Linked DNA regions of Homo sapiens. The protein of the gene in region 1 binds, or shares a complex with, the protein of each later gene. Each region holds a gene or a part of one and is shown in the gene's direction. Other genes may lie near its edges.

Region 1 (4,035 bases):
GTCTAAAAAAAAAAAAAAGAAAGGAAAGAAAAGAAAGGGGTTATGGGAAGGGACTTTGGATTTGTTAGTGGAGATTCTTGGCCAGGGCAGAAGGACTCCTATTTGGCGAGTGATTCTGCTCACATATCTCCAGGGCTCTGTGTTAGTAACTTGATTCTGGGTACTTTGTGGGGAGTAGAGAGAGGAAGGGGCCGGGACATCTACCTGGAAGGACTTAGTTCTAGCTCTTGCCTACAGAATAGTTGGTACTCAGCATAGGACAGTGGGTATGGTTCCAGACCAGACTGACTTGGGGTGGGAGAGGAGAATTTTGGTCCTAGGAAGTAGAAGTGCAGCCAAGAGTGATAAAGCTCACTAAAGCAGCGGGTGTTTGGAGGGTAGTCCCTGGCAACTCCCACTGCTTGAGTTCCAACCCCACTCTTCCTGTTCCCCAGGTGTGCGGCGACATCCATGGACAATTCTATGACCTCAAAGAGCTGTTCAGAGTAAGAGTGTGGCCAACACTGTGAAATGTAACGGGGGGATGACTGGAAGACCCCTGTAATTGAGGGTGGGAGCCTTAATTTGGGGCGTGGAGTGGGGGCAAGGGGCCCCAAGTTAGATGGGTGGTTGTGGAAGAAGGGCCTCCGCTGGACAGAAACAGGTAGGGGGTAGGGGACTGTTTACGACAGGGCAAAACTTTCTACTTCCCCACAGGTAGGTGGCGACGTCCCTGAGACCAACTACCTCTTCATGGGGGACTTTGTGGACCGTGGCTTCTATAGCGTCGAAACGTTCCTCCTGCTGCTGGCACTTAAGGTGGCAGTCCCCGGCTTCTGCACCCCCAACCTGGGCGACCTCGGGCCGGGCCTGTCTTAGTCCGTTCCGCCCTCATCTCCTATCGTGACCAGCCCCACCTTGGAGCTGTGTCACTGGTGATGGACCGATTCTGCTTTTGGGGGTGGTCAGAGACTTGATGGGGGTTGAGGCCAGCGGGGCAGCATTCTGGGAGGGGCAGAGGCTCACTGTTGCGAATGTGGCAGGTCATTGATGCCACTGGTGGGAGAGGCAGTGTGGGGCCAGATGACAAAGGGCCTGGGTGCCTTGCTAGGGACCCGGTCTGTGTCTGGTAGGTGAAAGAAGAGCCATTAGGTTCATAGTTGAGGGAATGGGTCAGCTTTACATTCTCTGGAGGGGTCGTGTGGGCCTGGGAGGTGGCTGATGCCACACGATTCAGGCAAGAGGTGCCAGGAGTGTGCTGGGCAGTGGTTGTGAGGATGGCAGGCTGGCGGGCACGAGGAGGTCAGAGAGGGATGTGTGGAGAGACCGTCTAGGCGCCAGCCCTGGCTTGGTGGCCACCCCCAGGTTCGCTATCCTGATCGCATCACACTGATCCGGGGCAACCATGAGAGTCGCCAGATCACGCAGGTCTATGGCTTCTACGATGAGTGCCTGCGCAAGTACGGCTCGGTGACTGTGTGGCGCTACTGCACTGAGATCTTTGACTACCTCAGCCTGTCAGCCATCATCGATGGCAAGGTAAGCCAGCCCAGGGCTCCATGGGACAGGGAGAGGAGGGGGGCTTCAGGCCTCAGCCCCGTCCTCTTTCCCTGCTCTCCCCTGTAGATCTTCTGCGTGCACGGGGGCCTCTCCCCCTCCATCCAGACCCTGGATCAGATTCGGACAATCGACCGAAAGCAAGAGGTGCCTCATGATGGGCCCATGTGTGACCTCCTCTGGTCTGACCCAGAAGGTGAGGGCATGTGGGCAGGGGCAGGCAGGGACAGCCAGGAGGGGTTGGGAAAGAGAGGGAGCAGGGCTGGTCTTCACTGTCACTCGTCCTCCACCTGCCAAATGGCTGGAACCCTGGAGGAGGAGCAGGGAGGCCTGCATGGCAGGTGCTTTGAGCACACAGTGGCTTGGGGCATGGCCCAGAGGGCTGTGGAGGACAACCAAGTCATGGCTCCCTGAAGTGAAGGGGCCTTAGAACATGACAGCAGCTTCTTCAGAGGTCAGAACCCCAGAATGGTAGCCCCCTGAGACCCCTCATTTTGTGGGTTTTCCACTAGTGTAGAGCAGAGCTGAGATTTAAAGTCAGGTCTTCTGAGGACCAGCCAGAGTTCCTGTTGTCACAGGCACACACGCACAGGCAGCCTCTGCTCCAGCGCAGACACACACACACATACACATAGCCTCTGCTCCATCACAGCCACACACACGCACACGAGGCCTCTGCTCCATCACAGCCACACACATACAGACACACACATGCAGACACACACATGCAGCCGCTGCTCCACAGTCACTCCGGACCTCCCTGTGACAACACAGGGTGCCCTTCTGTCTCTGGGAGTGCCCCTTTCACTCTTATGTGCTGTTTGGACGGGGATTGTATGATCACTGTGATTATGAGGGGGCCCCAGGCATTGGGCGTTCTTTCTCCTCTGGAGCTTATCTGCCCCTACATTTGCTGTCCTGGTCCCCGCCATCCCACAGACCATATTCAGGCCCCATGCTCTGGTCCCACGGGCCTCTGGTGGACTTGGGGAGGGGCCAGGCTGCTCACCCTCAAGGGGCAGCGCTGGCAGCCAGAGAAGCCTGAGGACATCCCTCTCCATCCCTCCCTTTCCGCATCAGACACCACAGGCTGGGGCGTGAGCCCCCGAGGAGCCGGCTACCTATTTGGCAGTGACGTGGTGGCCCAGTTCAACGCAGCCAATGACATTGACATGATCTGCCGTGCCCACCAACTGGTGATGGAAGGTTACAAGTGGCACTTCAATGAGACGGTGCTCACTGTGTGGTCGGCACCCAACTACTGCTACCGGTGAGCCGGCTGGGCCGGGCTGGGATGGGCGGGCATCTGAGCCGAGCTGCTCCTGACCCTGCTGCCCCGCCTTCCAGCTGTGGGAATGTGGCAGCCATCTTGGAGCTGGACGAGCATCTCCAGAAAGATTTCATCATCTTTGAGGCTGCTCCCCAAGAGACACGGGGCATCCCCTCCAAGAAGCCCGTGGCCGACTACTTCCTGTGACCCCGCCCGGCCCCTGCCCCCTCCAACCCTTCTGGCCCTCGCACCACTGTGACTCTGCCATCTTCCTCAGACGGAGGCTGGGCGTGGGGGGGGCTGTCCTGGCTCTGCTGTCCCCCAAGAGGGTGCTTCGAGGGTGAGGACTTCTCTGGAGAGGCCTGGAGACCTAGCTCCATGTTCCTCCTCCTCTCTCCCCACTTGAACCATGAAGTTTCCAATAATTTTTTTTTCTTTTTTTCCTTCTTTTTTCTGTTTGTTTTTAGATAAAAATTTTGAGAAAAAAAATGAAAAAATTCTAATAAAAGAAGAAAAATGGTTTTTGGGTTTGTGCCAGACTTGGTTGGGAATGCACAGGGTTGCTGGCCTGGGACCTGGGGTGGACGTCAGGGCCTTGACTGCCTCAGGGCCCCGACCTGCCAAGAGGGCCAGGCTCAGGCCAGTCAGCTTGCCCAGGGCCTCCAGGGGCCGCTGCCTGCTGGCTTCCCCAGCCCTAGGGAGAGGGCTCTGTTCTCATGGGCAGCCTTATCTTATTAACAGCATACACACACAGGCACACACAGAATCACAGGATTCTGATTTCTCCATTTTCCTGAAGAGGAGATGGGCCTAGAGGGCCAGTGGATTTTGTGCTAGGTCAGGCAGCTGGAAACACAGGTCTAGATCTGGGCCTGGGTCTCCTAGCAAAGCCTTTGCTCACCCAGCCCCGCCCAGGGCCAAACACAGGAGCCCAATGTTTCCTGAGCATGGATGGCTTTTGAGTTTTATTAACAAAAATACTCTGGTCCCAGAACAACAGACTGGTGTGGCCTGCACCAGTGTGTGTGGGGGGGTGGGGATTGAGCCCCTCCAGAGCCCATGGGGAGGCCTGGTAAGTGGGGATGCTGGTCTGTGGCCCCATTTGGCCAGGCAGAGCCCCTTCCATTCACACGGAGGTGAGAGCCGGGAAGGGGAAGCCGGCCCCAGCTGGACTCCCAGCAGCCTTGGTTAGGCTTTGAAGCCAGAGGGGGGTGGGAGTGAAATCAAGG
Region 2 (4,093 bases), on another chromosome or scaffold:
ATGCTGCTTCCTCCACATTCATTTCTTAACTCTCCTAACTTTTAAGTCATCTTAGCTTCTTATCTCCCTAGACTAAGGAGCAAACTTAACTTACTTTCTGGCCTTATTGATATGAATGTGGTTGGTATTTGAGCATCTATCATGCAGTCATTCTGGAAGATACCTCAGTATAGTTTTGTGTAGGGGAAAGAACACTGGGCTTGGTAAGCCTTTAGACCTGAGTTAATATTCTGGCCCTGCCATTTATTCTCTTTATAATCTGAGCAAGTTAACTTTTTCTCAGCTTTCTACCTTTAAAATGTTGATGGATTTTTGGATCATCTGCAGTTTTTTTGCTGTTACAAATAAAGCTGCTATGAACATTCACACACAAGTCTGTGTGAATATATATGTTCTTTCTCTTGGGTATACATCTAGAAGTAGAATGGCTGTTTAACTTTTTAAGAAACTGCCAGCCCGGTGCGGTGGCTTATGCCTGTAATCCCAGCACTTTGGGAGAACGAGGCGGGTGGATCACCCGAGATCAGGAGTTCAAGACCAGCCTGGCCAACATGGTGAAACCCCGTCTCTATTAAAAATACAAAGAATTAGCTGGGCGTGGTGGTGCATGCCTGTAATCCTAGCTACTCGGGAGGCTGAGGCAGGAGAATCACTTGAACCTGGGAGGCAGAGGTTGCAGTGAGCCGAGATTGCATCATTGCACTCCAGCCTGGGCAACGAGCGAAACTCCATCCAAAAAAAAAAAAAAAAAAAGAAAGAAAGAAAAACTGCCAAACTGTTTTCCAAAGTGGTTATATCATTTTCCATTCCCACCAAAAGTGTATGAGAGTTCCAGGTCCTCATCATCATTGTCAACACTTAGTGTGAGCAGTCTTAATTTTAGCCACTCTTATTAAATGTATAATAGTATTAATTTGTGGCTTGAATTTGCATTAATGGCTAATTATGTTACTCTTTTTATGTGCTCATTTGCCATCTAACTTATCTCCTTTGGTGAAGTGCCTTTTCACATCTTTTGCTCATCTTTTCATTGGGACATTTTCTTATTAAATTTTGAGAGTTCGTTATATATTACAGATACTTAAGACATATACAAAGGCAGATGGACCATCATGTCTCTACTACTCGGTTTTGACTTTCATTTATCCATGTTTCTGTTTTTGTTTTTTTTTTTTTGAGACAGGGTCTGGCTCTGTTGCCCAGGCTGGAGTGTAATGGCACTATCTTGGCTCACTGCAACGTCTGCTTCCCGGACTCAAGTAATCCTCCCACCTCAGCTTACCAAGTAGCTGGGACCACAGGCCTGCACCACCACGCCTGGCTAATTTTTTTGTATTTTTGGTAGAGATGGGGTTTTGCCATGTTGTCTAGGCTGGCCTTGAGCTCCTGAGCTCAAGCAATCCACCTGTCTTGGCCTCCCAAAGTGCTGGAATTACAGGTGTGAGCCACTGCACCCAGCCTGATGTAGATCACTTTTATATTTAAATCTATGAAATTCATTTTTGATAGAAATAACTCATTTATTCAATACTTCATTTATTTAAGATTGGTGGCAATTTGGACCTGAGTTAGTTCAAATTTTGTATTTGGATTACCTGTGGGAAAAAAGGTTACTACCAAAGTAATTGCGTTAAGAGTGCAAAGAAAATTTTTACTCACTGAAGGGAACAAATATCTATAATATTTGGGAGATCCACAAGTGTATGTCAGAGCAAGTGCTTTGTTATACTACCTTTCTGTTAAATACTGTTTGTATACATAATCTTGGTAACTAACTTGAAACTAGATAAACATGCCACTACTGTATTATATAAATAGAAATACATTATACATATGGTGTATATATATAAATATAAATACATATATGAATATACATATAGTATACTTCAGCAAATTATTCTTGCCTTAAATTCAGTTGTGCTATAGGACAATTTTGCATTTCTAAGGATTTAGTAAGCTTTTAGTATTGATATTTGAAGGAAGGGTTTCTGATAAACATTATTTATATTATTGCAAAGTACAAAATTAAAGTTTGACATACCTGTTGCTGGAGACTATAAAGATTATGTTGTATGGTCCCTGTAAAAGGCCAAATATTAAATAGTTTAGGTTTTGTGGACCATATGATCTTTGTTGCAGCTACTCAGATCTGCTGTTGTAAGGTAAAAGCAGCCATGACAATACAGAAATGAATGAAAGTAAGTGTCATCCAATAAAATTTTATTTACGAAAACAGAAGGTGGGCCAGTTTGGCTCGCTGGCTGTAGTTGGCCAACCCCTTCACTGTGCTATAAAATCCAAGGTCTGTAACATTTTTATTCTTGACTCATCACACAGTGTTCAGCAATACATCTCATCAGTGCTTAATGTAGAATAAGTATTGAATGAATCTTGATGTTTCACACCAAGCTAAATAAGACCGTAAACCTAATTTGGGGTCAAATAATGAAATTATTTTTAATTAAACTTGTTATTTTGAAAACTTTCAGACCTATACAAAAGCTGCACAGATATTGTAATGAATTCCCAACTCTTCACCTGAATTAAGCTGTTAACATTTTGCCAGTTTGCTCGTTACTTCTCTATACAGTTATGTACACACACACAATGTAATGTAATTTTTTGGTGTACCTTTGAAAATAGGTTGTGGTCATTGGGACCTTTAGCCTGTGTCTCCTAAGAACAAGGGCACTTTTACAATCATAGTAATGAAATTTGGGAAATTTAACATTGCTACAATCCTGTTATATAGTATGTAGTACATATTGAAATATCCCCAGTAATGTCCTTATGGCAACTGTCTTTTGCTGTAAGGACATTACTTACAAACTTACTAGTTTGGAACAATTTCTCAGCCTTTAGCATTCATGAAATTGACATTTTTGAAGAGTCCATTTGGTTTTATCTGTTTCCTCATGATTTGATTCAGGTTATTCTTTCCTTTTTTTTTTTTTTTTTTTTTTTTTTTTTGACAGGACTGCTACATAAGTGATAGTGTAGTTTTCTCAGTGCTTCAGATTAAGGAGCACCTGATAGCAGTGTCCATTACTGGTAGTGTGGAGGTGATGTCTATCAAATTGCTCCACTGTAAAGATTCTGTTTTTCCTATTGTAATTAGTAAGGAAATAGTTTGACAATGGGGAAATACCCTGTTTCCAAACATTTACCCATTTAGTGTTAGAATGTGTTGATGATTCTTGCCTGAATTAATTGCATTTACTAGCTGACATTCTGCTTTATAGAAGAGCCTGATCTTCCTCCCTATTCATTTGTTGGTATATTTATTTGTTAAAATATAATTTTAAAGCCCCAAATCTTTATAAGGTAACTCATTCTGTGGTGTATCTCATTGTCTTTCATTTTCTAAAATGTAAAGATGGGAAACAAAATGTGGCCGATTTATTGTGGCCTGAGCAGTATCTAGGGAAAAACTGAAGGGAAGGATAGACTATGAGCTTTTTTATGTTTTACGTTACATTATTAGAGATTATGTAGAGAATAGAAGGGTGTTTTGATCAATTTTGATAAAAGTTTGTACGAATTAAAAAGTTCTCTTTGGTGTGATACTTCTCAAGGTATTAATATGCTAATGTGCTTGTGAATATCTTAGAGAAGGATAAAGTATAGTAAACTCTTGACTTATCAATTATCCCTATGGACTACATTTTCATTAACAAATATTAATGAATGTGCCTCCATGAGAAGCATTGGACTCTGTTTTTTAGATAATGAAAAGTTTAGCAAGACAATCTTTAGGGAATTTATATATGTTGGGGAGGGAGAGGAGAAGGGAAGGTAGGAGAATATGAAAAAAAGGAAAAATACTTTGCAATTATTGGTGGAGTAAAAGCAAGGGCACCCAAGACGGCAGGGAATTAAAAGGAAGAACTCTTAATTAGAAAATAGAAAATGCCTCCTGGGTGTTGTTAGTAATAGGTAAATTTAAGCTGAGATGAGGTTAGAGAGGACAGAAATGGAACAGATGAAACCACATAAGACAGAAAAGTAGTGGGGCATGTTGCAGCAAATTGACTCCACATGGGCTGTGTACAGAGGAGGAAACTAGGTTGGGGCCAGATCCTGGACACCCTTG
Region 3 (4,093 bases), on another chromosome or scaffold:
GTAAATATTATTTGTACTAATAGTAAGTATTTATACATAGGAAGCTATAACTGTTTTTATTATTCACTTTTAAGATTTAATTGTTGCTGTTTGGGAAAAGTGTAGCCATAATATCAGACAGCTTATTGTTCCCCTAAATTGGTTCCTGTCTCAGTTTATCAATTTGTCCTACAGCAACTATTTATGTTCATTTAAATTGCCTTTTAAAATATTCATGTCAGTTTTTTTTTGTTTTGTTTTGTTTTAATTCTGAAGTCAACTTGCTATATTGTGTTTTTTAAATCATTTAGTCAATCAATTCTTGTATCTGGGGAATTAAGAGTAAGTTACCTAGGAAAACATTGACTTTAGGGTAGATTCTCAAAATCGCCAAGAATGAAGAAATGTAGCACAGTCCCTTAAAATATGAAGGGTGCTGTTTCTTTACTGCCTAGCCATAGAGAACAAGCTGTTACGTTGTTCACAAACACTCACGTTAGCATCTGAGATATACCAGATTTTAAAGTAGTAGAGAATATATCCTGGTAATGTGAAGGGTGCGCCTGGATCACATAGTGCGTGACATGTGAGAGCACTAAATGTGTGTGCTCTCCTTTATTTTAAAATAATTGAACCAATGATTCTGATTTTTTCCTGCTTCCCCCATAACAATTTGGAAGCAACTTTTTACGTAAGAATGAGTAAGAAGGACCTGCTCTCAGGTCCTTCTTAAGGGAGGAGGGGAATAAAGATCCCCTAAGGAAAAAAAAAAAATCTGTTTAGAATTCCAGCCTGTGGTATTTTTACGAAATAGGAAAATAGACTGTCTTACTTTTTGAAAAGATCCTATTTAATGTATTGTGATGTCAAAAGGAAATGGAATGCCATGTAACTGCTATGTTTAAGTTTTTATTTTTATAGTGCAGGATAGGTGCAAAAAAGCACCAGTTTGAACTGTTGTGTCATGTTTTTCTTTTATAAAATATTAACATCGGCCTCAGCAACATAGCAAGACCCTCCTTTAGTACAAAATTAATTTTTAAAACTTAGATATGGTGGCATGCACCCATAGTCCCAGATACTCAGGAGGATGAGAAGGAAGAGTCTCTTAAGACCAGGAGTTTGACTCTGCAGTGAGCTATGATTGCTCCACTGCACTCCAGTCTGGGTGACGAAGCCAGACCCCATCTCAAAAAAAAAAAAAAATTCTTTGAGAACCAAAGTATCTGTATTATTGAAAATAAAGGCTATTGTTGGTCCCATTAACCCATGAGCTGAACATATGAACATGTATTGATATACCTCAAAATACACACAGTAGGACTCTTTTTTTTTCCTGTTTTGCAACAGAATAACATTTCAGTCACTAGGACTCTTGATTCCCACTCTTCTTAATCATCATTTCCATCTACTGTCTGCATTTTCTCTATCCCTTGTCCATCCTGCCTTTGCATACACATAGGCAAGAGCAGGGATTTTCTCACTGAATCCCTCTCAATCTTATTTACTACTTAGGTGAGGAATACCAGTCATAATAGGACCTCAGGAAAACCAGCCATCTCTTTTCTTTGATATTTAGAATGTGTATAATCCATTTGTTCTCTGCACTCTCTAAATACCATAGTCTCATTTTCTCCAATTTCAGACATTCAGATAATTTTTTCCTAAATTTATTTTAAAAGGAAATTTTATATCACTTTTACAAATGGAGAACATACATCACTGGCCATAAATAGAAGGACTCTATAATAATAAAAGCAATAGACCAGGCACGGTGGCTCACGCCTGTAATCCCAGCACTTTGGGAGGCTGAGGCAGGCGGATCACCTGAGGTAGGGAGTTCAAGACTAGCCTGACGATCATGGAGAAACCCCGTCTCTACTAAAAATACAAAATTAGCCGGGCATGGTGGTGCATGCCTGTAATCCCAGCTACTAGGGAGGCTGAGGCAGGAGAATCGCTTGAACCCGGGAGGTGGAGGTTAGTAAGACGAGATCGTGCCATTGCACTCCAGCCTGGGCAACAAGAGGCAAACTCCGTCTCAAAAAAATAAAATAAAAATAAAAGCAACGAAAGTATTATGATGTTCTAAATCCTACCTAAATATTCTTACTCTTAAAGCTATGGTCATAAAACCCACTGGCTTTCTTCAAAAGGTAGATTACATTATTAGAAAGTTGTAAAGATATATTATCACCAAACTAAAACTTTGCTTTTGCTTTATTCAGAGGAATTTAAAGATAATAGACAAGAAATTTCTATTTAGGGCTATGTCCCTGTACCACACTTTAGGGAATGAAACACTGTCATATGTCCTGTCAGATAACTGAGTTAAACATTTCACTTTGCAGTTAACAAAACAGCTAGAGCCTAGGTATAATGCTGTGGTATGTGTCTTAGTTTTTGCTTTTTCCGTTCTCTCATAATAAGTGATCCTGAGTATGTCTATTTTTCTCTCCAGGATATTTTGCTCATCAACCTCATTATAGAACATATGATTTGTGATACAGATCCTGAACTTGGAGGAGCAGTCCAGCTTATGGGCCTGCTTCGAACTTTAGTTGACCCAGAGAACATGCTAGCCACTGCCAATGTAAGCCATGAGCATTTCCCCTCTTTTTCATAGCTAGTATATTGTGTATTGCTGGTAGGAACCAGTGTGGTTAAAGTTCATGGAATTGTTCTTGTTTCCTTAGAAAACAGAAAAGACTGAATTTCTGGGTTTCTTCTACAAGCACTGTATGCATGTTCTCACTGCTCCTTTACTAGCAAATACAACAGAAGACAAACCTAGTAAAGGTAAGATAATTCAGGTTGGTAGTTAAGTTCTCTGTTCTTGAATGCTGAATTCAAAGTTGGTGTTAAGTCAGTCTTTTTAGGAGGCAGTTAGTGGGAGGTAGAGGCTGGGAGGACACACCTTTTAAAAAGTAGTAGTCTTTAAAAGTTCAAACCATCAGGTTAACATAGAGGTCTTAATAATTTGGTTGGTTGGTTGGTTGGTTGGTTGTTTTTATCAAAAGCAACCTGGAGAATTAATGATGTATTTTGAAAAGAAAGGTTCATGACAAAAATGTCCCTAAAAGGCCTGTAATCCCAGCACTTTGGGAGGCCAAGGCAAGCGGATCATGAGGTCAGGAGATCGAGACCATCCTGGCTAACACGGTGAAACCCCATCTCTACTAAAAAAATACAAAAAAAATTTAGCTGGGCGTGGTGGCAGGTGCCTTGTGGTCCCAGCTACTGGGGAGGCTGAGGCAGGAGAATGGCGTGAACCCAGGAGGCGGAGCTTGCAGTGAGCCGAGGTCGCCCCACTGCACTCCATCCAGCCTGGGCGACAGAGTGAGACTTCAACTCAAAAAAAAAAAAAAAAAAACAATTTTCCTGAAAGTACTGTAATCAGATAACAGAAACATGTAAAAGAAATAAGATAATTTTTTGTTGAACAATATTTGTATTCAGTTTGCATCTACACTGGTGAAATATAAATAGAAGGCAGTAGCTATGAAAAAATTCATTTTAAATTATTTGTACTCCAGATGTATAGACAGAGCTAGGATTTTTGCACAATATTAAGCTACTTTTATTTATATTGAAGATATGTTAAGGTTTGTTATTTTTGTATTATATTCATTAGAGCTTTAGCGTGCGTGTGCGTGTGTTTAATTTAGGAGGTAGTTTTAGGTCTACATTCAAAAATTGCTTATTTAAGCTTTAGGAGTAAATACATTATTTTGTCATTGGAATTTTTTTTTTTTTTTTTTTTTTTGGAGACAGAATCTTGCTCTGTTGCCCAGGCTGGAGTGTGGTGGCGGGATCTCGGCTCACTGCAACCTCTGCCTCCCAGGTTTGAGCAATTCTCCTGCCCCAGCCTTCTGAGTAACTGGGATTACAGGCACCTGCCACCATGCCTGGCTAATTTTTATATTTTTAGTAGAGGCAGGGTTTTCACCATGTTGGCCGGGCTGGTCTCAAACTCCTGGCCTCAAGTGATCTGCCCACCTTGGCCTCCCAAAGTGCTGGGATTATAGGTGTGAGCCACCACGCCCAGCCTTGAATTCTTAATATAGCATAATTATAGCACTCACATAAAACACAAGTTAAATTTACTTTTTGT
Region 4 (4,093 bases), on another chromosome or scaffold:
AGATAGCTTTTTAATATCCTGTCTTACTGGAACACCAAGTGGCTGGGGAAGTTATCTGATTTTTTTTGGACAGTTATTTTATCCTGGTAGAAGAGGACTTAAAATTCCCAATCCTCCACCCCATATTCGGTGTTTATGTATTCACTAAGCATGTTTTGTACTGAAATGATTGGTGTAGTTAGATTCTTATATTCAATGGAATTTGGAAAATATTTTTTATTTTATTATGTAAATAGCAGCCAGTGTTTATGCATTTAGCTTTAAGCTTTGATTTCTTTTTATCAACATGGCATATCTTTGATACTGACATTTGCAGAGTTTCTGCTACCTATTTATGGCTAAACTAAGCTTTGTCTAGTATGTGAGATTGTAACGAGAGAATGAAAATGAAAATTTAAAGAACAGCAATTTAGACTTTTCTGATGTTTTAGGATGGGTGGATTGCTTAAGATAAGCATTTCCACCGGATGTGGTGGCTCATGCCTGTATCTCAGCACTTTGGGAAACAGTGGGTCACTTGAGCTCAGGACAAAAAATTTAAGTTACCTGAGTGTGTTGGTACATGCCTATAGTCCCAGCTTCTCCAGAGGCTGAGGCAGAAGGATTGTTGGAATGTGGGAGGTTGAGGCTGCAGTGAGCCATGATGGTTGGTGCCACTGTACTGCAGCCTGAGTGACAGAGTGAGACTCTGTCTCAAAAAAAAATTTCATAGTTGTTTTTATTTTCACTGATGCATTATAGCAAGAAAGCATTAACAGAAGTAGTATGTGAAACTGTTTATGGATCAAAATCAGTGACCCCCCAGGCTGCTTAGTTTTCTTTTCAAAAGACAATTGATTTGACACTTGCTTTTAGCTTTAGAGAGGTTTTAGAATTGTAAGTATAGGCTTTTACAATGGAGGAGGTTGTAGGAAAAATGGAGGAGGCCGTAGGAAAAATTTGAACATTTTTACTTCTTAGTCTATTAAAATTACCTGTAAACATCTGATGTAGGAAGTTAGGAAAGATGCCAAGACATACTAAATTGATGTGAAGAGGGAAACTATATATGTATATAACTAAAATAATTAATCCCCAGGTGAATTGTTTCTGGCCACTTCAAAAAATTGTTTTTATGTTGGAAAGAATACACTCTTCTGAAGGTAATGTAGTTTCTGACATCATGCTAAATATATAGTATGCGCTGAATAAACAGGAACATATGGTGTGTTTCAATCATGAATTTAAACACTTGATGCATTTCAGTCATGGATTTAAAGGTATTTGATGGGTTTGAGTTGCAATTATTATCCTTTTTGACGGTCAAGTTGTCTCCCATTTGGTCAGTGGTAGCCTTTTCCAGTTGGCTCCAGAGTCCTTTTGACGTGACCTTAGTAGTTTTTGATAGTATCCTTATTCTCTGGTATAAGAATATGTTCCAAGCTCATTTCCTGCCCCAGATGTGAATCAGATATTTCTCAAGAAGACCTGCCTTTTAGTGGGAAATGGCATTTCAAGACTACAATCTTGGTGGTAGAGAAGTTTATTATTACTCAGCTACATAAAATACTAAGACTTGCAATTCAGAATGAGGAATACAGCGTTTTAAAAAGTTTTTTTTTTGTTTAGGTAAAATATACTTATATAATTTACTGGCCAGGTGCAGTGATTCATGTCTGTAATCCCAGAACTTTGAGAGGCTGAGGCAGGTGGCCCAGGGTCACTTGAGCCCAGGAGTTCGAGACCAGCCTGGGCAACATGGTGAAACCCGTCTTTACAAAAAATATAAAAAATTAGCCTAACGTGGTGGCATGCGCCTGTAGTCCCAGCTACTCCCAGCTACTTGGGAGGAGGAGGTAGGAGGATCACCTGAGCCTGGGAGGTTGAGGCTGCAGTGAGCCGTGATTGTGCCACAGCACTCCAGTCTGGGCAACAGAGTAAGACCTTGTCTCAAACACACACATGCACACTTGCACACTTATGTAATTTACCATCTTTACCATTTTAGTTTTCTTTCTTCTTTTTTTTTATTTTTTTGAGATGGAGTCTCGCCCTATGCCACACTGGATCGTAGTGGCGCGATCTCGGCTCACTTCATCCCCCACCTCCTGAGTTCAAGCGATTCTCCTGCCTCAGCCTCCTGAGTAGCTGGGACTACAGGCACACACAACTAATTATTGTGTTTTTAGTAGAGACAGGGTTTCACCATGTTGGCCAGGATGATCTCTATCTCTTGACCTCGTGATCCACCTGCCTTGGCCTCCCAAACTGCTGGGATTACAGGCGTGAACCATCGCCCCCGGCCCCATCTTTAGCATTTTAAGTGTACAGTTTGGTGGTAATAAATACATGTATATTCTTTTTTCTCCCCTTTTATCTCTCCTGTTCCTTGCTCAGTCTCTAGTAATCATCAGTCTTTAGACTCTTACCTTTGTGAGATCCACTGTTGTAGCTCCCACATATGTGAAAACGTGATGTTTGTCTTTCTGTGCTTGACTTAACTTCACTTAACATAATGGCCTATAGTTCCATCCATGTTGTTGCAAATGACAGGATCTAATTCTTTTTTATTGCTGAATAATATACCACATTTTCTTTTCCATTGATGGGAACTCAGGTTGGTTCCTTGTTTTAAAAAAATGTATTTTTGAGGCAAGGTCTTGCTGTTGCCCAGGCTTTAGTGCAGCAACTCAGTCATAGCTCACTGCAACCTCAAACTCTTAGGCTCAAGGGATCCTCTTGCCTCAGCCTCCTGAATAGCTAGGACTTACAGATAGGGTACATGCCACGATGCCTGGCTAATTTATAATTTTTTTTGTAGAGACAAAGTCTTGCTATGTTGCCTAGGCTGATCTCCAACTCCTGGCCTTAAGCAATCCTCCCAGAGTGCAAAGATTACAAAGCATGAGCCATTGCACTGAGCTGGTTTCATATTTTGGCTGTTGTGAATAGTGCTGCAGTAAACATGGGAGTGCACAGGGATTTTTCTTTTCTTTTCTTTTCTTTTCTTTTCTTTTTTTTTTTTTTTTTTTTTTTTTGAGACGGAGTCTCGCTCTGTCACCCAGGCTGGAGTGCAGTGGCGCGATCTCGGCTCGCTACAACCTCTGCCTCCTGGGTTCAAGCGATTTTCCTGCCTCAGCCTCGTGAGTAGCTGGGATTACAGGCATGCGCCACCACGCCTGGCTAATTTTTTTGTATTTTTAGTAGAGATGGGGTTTCACTGTGTTAGCCAGGATGGTCTCGATCTCCTGACCTCGTGATCCATCCACCTTGGCCTCCCAAAGTGCTGGGATTACAGGTGTGAACCACTGCGCCTGGCCCAGGGTTTTTATAACTTTTTGCATACCAGGAATCCTGGTTCTCTCAAGAACACAGGCAGGGTATGATAGAATCAGGATGTCTTGTAATTACTGATTGTAACCAACATTACACATCAGAAAGTCTAAAATAATAATGCGAATATTACTGCCACCAATATAATTACTAGGAATGTTAAATTTTTTTTTTTTTACATATTCTCTATTTCTAGCCCCCATTTAAAAGTTTTTCTGTCTCCCTTGTCTGAGCATATTGCTATTACGTAACTTTCCCTTTTGTTTTTTTTTTTTGAGACAGAGTCTCACTCTGTTGCCCAGGCTGGAGTGCAGTGGTGCGATCACAGCTCACCGCAACCTCTGCCTCTTGGGTTCAAGTGATTCTTGTGCCTCAGCCTCCTGAGTAGCTGGGGTTACTGGCACGTGCCACCATTGCCTGGCTAATTTTTGTGTTTTTAGTAGAGACGGGGTTTCGCTGTGTTGAACAGGCTGTTCTCGAACTCCTGGCCTCAAGTGATCCTCCCCCTGCCTTTGCCTCCAAAGGTGCTGGGATTACGGGCATAGTCACTGCCCCGGCTGACTTTCCCTTTTAACTGTCAATCTTAGTTTTACAGTAGGTATATATCTCATGCCTACAACCAGTCCTTATGTCATTGTCATTGTATTCTCTCTGTCTCTCGTCAGTTTGGTTGTCTGAATGAAGCTTATTCTTTAATAGATTATTGAAAAGCGGCTAATTGAAACAATATTTCTGGAGTTTTTTTTTGTTTTGTTTTTTTTTGAGACAGAGTCTTGCTCTG

Evidence for each region.
Region 2: PPP4C (region 1) and PPP4R1 share a complex: the UniProt entries of both Homo sapiens proteins name them as parts of the PP4 complex.
Region 3: PPP4C (region 1) and PPP4R3A share a complex: the UniProt entries of both Homo sapiens proteins name them as parts of the PP4 complex.
Region 4: PPP4C (region 1) and PPP4R2 share a complex: the UniProt entries of both Homo sapiens proteins name them as parts of the PP4 complex.

What each region holds. Positions count from the first base shown.
Region 1 is NC_000016.10:30,082,050-30,086,084, forward strand, and holds the end of PPP4C (serine/threonine-protein phosphatase 4 catalytic subunit), read left to right. Parts: intron 1-434; coding exon 435-485; intron 486-696; coding exon 697-798; intron 799-1,344; coding exon 1,345-1,518; intron 1,519-1,605; coding exon 1,606-1,732; intron 1,733-2,616; coding exon 2,617-2,806; intron 2,807-2,883; coding exon 2,884-3,013; 3' UTR 3,014-3,327; downstream 3,328-4,035. UniProt on the Homo sapiens protein: Protein phosphatase that is involved in many processes such as microtubule organization at centrosomes, maturation of spliceosomal snRNPs, apoptosis, DNA repair, tumor necrosis factor (TNF)-alpha signaling, activation of c-Jun N-terminal kinase MAPK8, regulation of histone acetylation, DNA damage checkpoint signaling, NF-kappa-B activation and cell migration.
Region 2 is NC_000018.10:9,604,444-9,608,536, reverse strand, and holds part of PPP4R1 (serine/threonine-protein phosphatase 4 regulatory subunit 1), read left to right. Parts: intron 1-4,093. UniProt on the Homo sapiens protein: Regulatory subunit of serine/threonine-protein phosphatase 4. May play a role in regulation of cell division in renal glomeruli. The PPP4C-PPP4R1 PP4 complex may play a role in dephosphorylation and regulation of HDAC3.
Region 3 is NC_000014.9:91,471,718-91,475,810, reverse strand, and holds part of PPP4R3A (serine/threonine-protein phosphatase 4 regulatory subunit 3A), read left to right. Parts: intron 1-2,440; coding exon 2,441-2,572; intron 2,573-2,675; coding exon 2,676-2,778; intron 2,779-4,093. UniProt on the Homo sapiens protein: Regulatory subunit of serine/threonine-protein phosphatase 4. May regulate the activity of PPP4C at centrosomal microtubule organizing centers.
Region 4 is NC_000003.12:72,999,643-73,003,735, forward strand, and holds part of PPP4R2 (serine/threonine-protein phosphatase 4 regulatory subunit 2), read left to right. Parts: intron 1-4,093. UniProt on the Homo sapiens protein: Regulatory subunit of serine/threonine-protein phosphatase 4 (PP4). May regulate the activity of PPP4C at centrosomal microtubule organizing centers.